2 separate regions of the Homo sapiens genome follow, and region 2 is linked to region 1. The links come from fine-mapping of genetic effects on gene expression. Tissue or cell type: whole blood. Region 1 holds a variant in brackets; the other region holds the start of a gene. All regions are shown on one strand. Distances are between the middles of the regions.

What was found.
Region 2: GPRIN3 starts here. The variant in region 1 is fine-mapped to the expression of GPRIN3 in whole blood (TOPMed, PIP above 0.99).

The regions. Positions count from the first base shown.
Region 1 is chr4:89,281,783-89,284,698 of GRCh38, reverse strand. All of the region lies in intron 1 of GPRIN3 (GPRIN family member 3), which reads left to right. Among named protein-coding and RNA genes, the nearest start is that of GPRIN3, 25 kb to the left of the region's middle. The variant C/G (reference allele first, on the strand shown) is at 1,366.
Region 2 is chr4:89,306,070-89,308,985 of GRCh38, reverse strand. GPRIN3 (GPRIN family member 3) reads left to right here and starts at 1,186. Exons shown (of 2, transcript NM_198281.3): 1 at 1,186-1,371. RefSeq lists silencers at 1,107-1,176, 1,187-1,236.

The DNA.
Region 1 (2,916 bases):
ATAATTTTTGCAAAGGCGATTTCAGGGTGAGAAAAGGGAGCTAGGGAAGGAGCAGTGGACTTGGAAGGTAGACCTGGTGGTGAGTTCCTGTTAGTAAGAAAGCCCAAGTAATTCTACTACCATAATCACTAATATTATTGCTGTTACTACTAGCTAACCTGTGTGCAAAACTCTCTTCTAAGAATGCACAACAATCCTAGAGGAAGGTGTTATTTTCATTCCTGGGTGGCAAGTGTTACAAACCTTAGGCACTGGGGAGTCAACTAATTTGCCTGAGGCCACACAGCTTGTAAGTGGCCAACCAGATGTGAACCTGAATAATCTGATCCTAGAGGCATTGTTAACCACTGTGCCTCTCACACAGTGAAATGTTTCCAGAAGGTAAGGGACAGTAATTCTGAATGGCTGGCAGTCCTCCAGCATGTGGTCTTCAGCCTCCTGTCTCTGTTCATGCCGTTCATTTGCTTTAGTGGCCTCTTCCACCCACCCATTCCTTCACCTGGCTGACTCCCCATCCTTCAGGGCATTCTGCCCAGCACACCTTTCCAGAATCCTGCTGAGGCCCTTACCTCACCAGCTTGTGGTGGGTACCCTGTGATACCATCTGTCATAGCGTTTACCTCAACACAGTTGCTTTTCTGCCTTGTCTTAAAACCTTGGATCCTTCCATTCTTTCATCCTTCGCATTCAATCAGAGGGCACAGCTGATTTGACCTCTTCAGTATTTCTAGGTCCATCCTTCCCTCAGTTCCTGCTGCCAGTGCCCTACTTCTCACAGTTTCACTTACAAAGCCCCCCGCAGTTTTACTTTGTCACACCCTTTAGCCCTATATCTTGCATCCGGAGCTGCAGCCATGCCAACTAAATATTGTTCCAGCCCCACCCCACCCTCAACCACTTCCCCAGTAGGCTGCCTGTATATCTATTCATGCTTGTCCATATGCACCTGAAATGCCCTTTCCTCCCCACTGGTGAAGTCCTGCTTAGTTTTCAAGGCAGCATTGCTGTTGCTTACACTCAGAGGCCTTGGGTGGGCCTTCTCTTAGATATGCCAGCATTGTGCACTCATAACACCCTATGCCGAGCTCTACCAAAGGGCTCACCATTATACCGTAGTCCAGTCTCCCTTTATGTTTCTGCCTCCCCCACTAGATATGAACTTCCTGAAGGTGAGGACTGGCAGATTCCACCCACCTTGTGTGTACCATGATCTGTGTGATTACTTACTATGTTCCTGGTATTTTTTTCCTTCCCTGTTTTGCAGCAGATCTCCACTGGTTCCCCGGAAGCTTTCCCTGATTGCAAAAGTTGGAATGAGTCATTCTTTTCTTGTGTTACCATTGAAATCTGTAGCAATGAAATCAC[C/G]TTTCTGCCCAGTGGATGTGAGCTTCTGAAGGCAGGAATTGAGCCTTTGTGGCTCTCTAGAACCCACCACAGGCCTGGCACATTGTGTATGTTAAACAATTTGGGATAGCCTAAAAAGTAATGTTTAATGTTTGTGCTACATAGGCCTATTGTTCAGCTGCATGAATTGAGTGAATAAGAAAAATAATTACTCTGAAGGCCTGTCTTTACTTCCTCTCATAGCCCTCAATGAAGCAAGGGATTTTACAAACAAAACACTAAAGGCCTTGGCTATCTTTGTTAATATTAATAACAATCGGTCTTTTTAGGCCTGAACGTATGTGCATAGTGTTCTTATCACTTTCAGAAAAACATTCCTCCATTACCATCTGAGGGTAACATAATCGCATGTGTGGCAAGTCATCAAATTAGTGAATTCTTAAAAGTCCAAGTTATTATATCTTTATTAGGCAGATTTCCACAGATTTGTGAGGTCTTCGATGTAGACTCTGAGACTGTGATTCATAGTTCCCATGACAGCAAAGTGGGGATAGCTCTCTGAGCCACCTCGGGCCACGAAGAGGTAGTTTTTAGTGGGTAAAAATCCCATACTTCTGACAAGTGATTTGTCAGATTAATATTCTACACCAGGGTTGTCCAGTCTTTTGGCTTCCCTGGGTCACGCTGGAATAATTGTCTTGGGCAACACATAAAACACACTAACAATAGCTGATCAGCTAAAAAAAAAAAAAAAAAAAAATTGCAAAAAAATCACATATGTTTTAAGAAAGTTTACAGATTTGTGTTGGGCTATGTTCAAAGCTGTCCTGGACTGCATAAGGACAAGCTTGTTCTACACACTTTGGATCCTTCCTTTCCTAATGAGGCTTATAAATCTGTGAGTTTATCCCAATAATAGATGCACACCACTGAAGCAGGTGAGAGATTACAACCCCTTGAGGGTCAAGGTAACAAGGCATGTTGGAAACATTCCTGACTCCCAGTATCTTATTGTTTACAAAGGATATTTCTATTATTTAGATACTCATATGACATTGATTTTTGTTATAAACTACTATTCAAAACAGTAAAATAAATTCAAAGCAAATAATTCATGATTTGAGATAGGATGGACATAATTCTCATCATTGCTAGTGAATATAGTTAACTTCAGTAATAGAAATGGCTATTCTTTTATGTTACAGTAATTTTGTTGGCAATGCATTATACACGAAATAAAAATCACATTTCTTTAGAGGCATGTTAGCATTCACCAAACAATAACTGTACTTCTTTTTCTTCTTGCCAGCACCATGCAGGATACTGAGACTACCAGGCACCCACTCACTCTCTACAGTACTCTTACTAAAGAGACCAAAAAAAAAAAAAAAAGATGACTGCATAGCAATGCATTATAATAAAGACTTTAGAATGCAATGAGACAACAGAGGAAAGACTTGTAATTAAGGGGGAATGGTTTAGGGATGGGAAAGTGCAAGGAAGGCTTCCCATAGAAGAAAATGCTGAGTTGTGTTGAGATTATTAGCAATGCAAGAAAGAGTAGAGAGGGTA
Region 2 (2,916 bases), 24 kb before region 1:
CTTGACCCCGGGAAGCGGAGCTTGCAGTGAGCCGAGAGCGCGCCACTGCACTCCAGCCTAGGAGACGAAGCAAAAAACAAAAAACAACAACAACAAAAAACTAAAAAAGCGTTTCCTCAGTCCCTACCCCAGACCTATTGGATCACAATCAGCATTTTAACAAGACCCCCTAGGTGAGTCCTGTGTACTAGATGAGAGGATATATTTTGGATTGGTTTGAATCCCAGCTGAGCAGGTTACTACTGTGTGACCTCAAGCAAAGTGTTTAGATCATATAAGCCTGTTTCCTCGTCCACATGGTAAGGCACCTCAATGGGTTGTAGTAAGAATTAAAGAGGCTGAGGCTGTATGTAAGGCATTTTTCACAGAGCCTTCCAACAAATACCCAGTTAATAATGAAGCTCTTTTCATCGTATCATTTTGCACCATCTACAGCTGCTAACCATACTACACATCCATTCAGGATTCTGGAGCTGCTCAACAGGGAAGATTTCCAAAGCCCTCAAAGCCCTCCAAGCCCATGGGGTAGCGGGAAGGGGATGGGGACAGGAACACTGTCAGCAGTGCCTCTCCGAATACGCAGGATACTGTACATTTTGCAAAACATATTACTTATCGGATGATCTTGCTTTCAGATCTCCACTGCACGTGGCTTTATTGGAAACCTTCTGCTAGAGTCTAGACTCAGCCATGGAGTCTGGTGACCTGTGGGAGGGAGCAAGGGCCAGAATGCCTGCTAAATCGCTCTGGGTCCCCAGCCCTCTTCCTTAATCCCTTCTTAACTTTCCATCTGTCTCTGGTCTCCAGGGGTGCAGAACCACAACCCACCAGACCCCTCCTAGCTCCCGGCCCGGCGCTCAGCAGCCTGGGCTGCAACACTTTCCCCCAGGACCGGGAAGGCGGGGGAGGGGGTTTGGAGGGGGCGGAGCTCGGCCTCCTGCTGCCGCCGCTGCTGCTGCCGCCGCCGCCGCCTGCAAAGCTGTCGCCCCTCTCTCGGATGCTCAGGCTGGGCAGCGCTGGACAGATGGGTACACCCCGGGCCTGACGGATGAACAGTCGGGCAAGTGAACTCTCACCTCCAAACTGGCTCTGCGCCCGGCGGGGGCGGCGGCGGCGTCTGCAGCCCCGCGGTGGGGGCAGCCCCCTCGGTCTACGCCCGACTGCTGCGCGCCGCCTCTGCTCTTGGCATAGTAATTTCAGTTCCTGAACGCACGGAGCTCGCTCCGGGACCGGGCTGAGAAGGACCTCAGCTCGCGGGCCCGCCGGAGCCATCGGTGTGGCGCCGAGAGACGGTGCTTGGGATATGCGACGGGAAGCCCCCGCCACAGCGCAGGCAGTGGCCCCGCCGCGCCGCGGAGCCGGGCAGAGCAGGTAGGAGACGCCCCCTGCGCACCTCCGCCTGGCGGCCAGCGCGGGGGACCGGAGCCTGGTGGTGTGCTCTGTAGGGATGCGGAAGGGATTCGGTCCCACATTTTGCACAGGGATCCTTTGCCTGTTGCTCTTGTCTCTGTCCCATCCTGCGCTCTAGGAGGGGCAGTCTTTCTCGCAGGTGATGAATTTCTCTGCAAGGTCATTGCTCTCTTTGGCTCTGGCTTTGAAGGTAAATGGGAGAAGACGCCTGCTGATCGTGGGCAGGGAAATTTATAATCAATCGGGTCTGCACACTGCGAATATCCGAATATGAGGGGTGTGTGTGTGTGTGTGTGTGTGTGTGTGACATTTGTCTCATTTTCCTATGCTTATCCCCTTTAAGGTCAAAACATAGAAATATATATTACATATGGATGTATGTATGTGTGTGTATATACACACACATACATAAATGCATATGTAAATAGGTTTTCTTGAGGTAGGCAGAAAGAAGAGGAAGGGCGGGCAGGGGTTGATAAAGGGAAATCGTTGTAGAGACATGTTCACTAATAGAGGCGAACTTTGGAACCACATTAAATCAGGGTAGAGACTAGAGGTGATAAACGGTTCTTTCAAGATGGGCTTTAGAAGAGGTCTGAAGGAGCCTGTCAGCCAACACACACAGAAGATCTTCATGCTCTCCAGGCAGATGGAAACGATGTAGGCATCATTTCAGACGCAATAATGGACAGTGAAAGAGGGAAAAAAGGAGAGGTACTTAATATGCCACTGGGAAGTGAATTTTGGGTGATGGGAAGGCATCGAATCCAGACCAGGTTTCAAGGGCTTTCTGGAGGGCCATTGGGAGAAATCACCGCTTGGGGTGTAGGCAGTTCAAGGTTAAGACGATGTGAATGTCCACAAAGCAGCCGAGGAGGTGGGCAAAAGGCAAGGGCTTGGAGGGGGAGGGGAGAAACAGAGCTCTGAGCAGTCACTCAAGAAGCACCCACCTTTGAGTAAGGTGTCTTCTTCCTCTTGGTTAAAGCGGTACTTGGGTATGCTCCATCTAAATATTTTCACAACACATTTGTTTAAAGATCCATTGGACTATGTTTTTATTTTGTTTTTGCAAGGTATCTGGGTCATGGTGGGACTAGAAGAAACTGAAGTGTTTACAACACCAGCAAGATTTGGGAGAGAGGGTTGATTAAGGCTTTGCTTCATGAAATATTTACACATCTCCTGCGTGGGCTTTTGTTTGCTCTTGTTGGTGCTGCTGCATATTTTACTTTGATAATGCTTTGAGTGTACTTCGCCCGAATGTGCTTATTTTCCAGTTATAACCTATTCTTTCTTTTCCCATTGTGCTCACCATTGGCCTGCCCTGAGTAACAATTGTGGGAATAAAGGTACATGAGTCACAGCCCAAAGCAGAAAATCTCTGCTGCTATCTGCAAAAGACAGGAGTTTGCGTTAGAGAATGTTCTTTTTCGAGTTTTTGTGTGTGTTTAGTTTTTCAAGTTTTGTGTGTCTTTAATCGAGGGAATAGGTTATTGATTCAAAAGA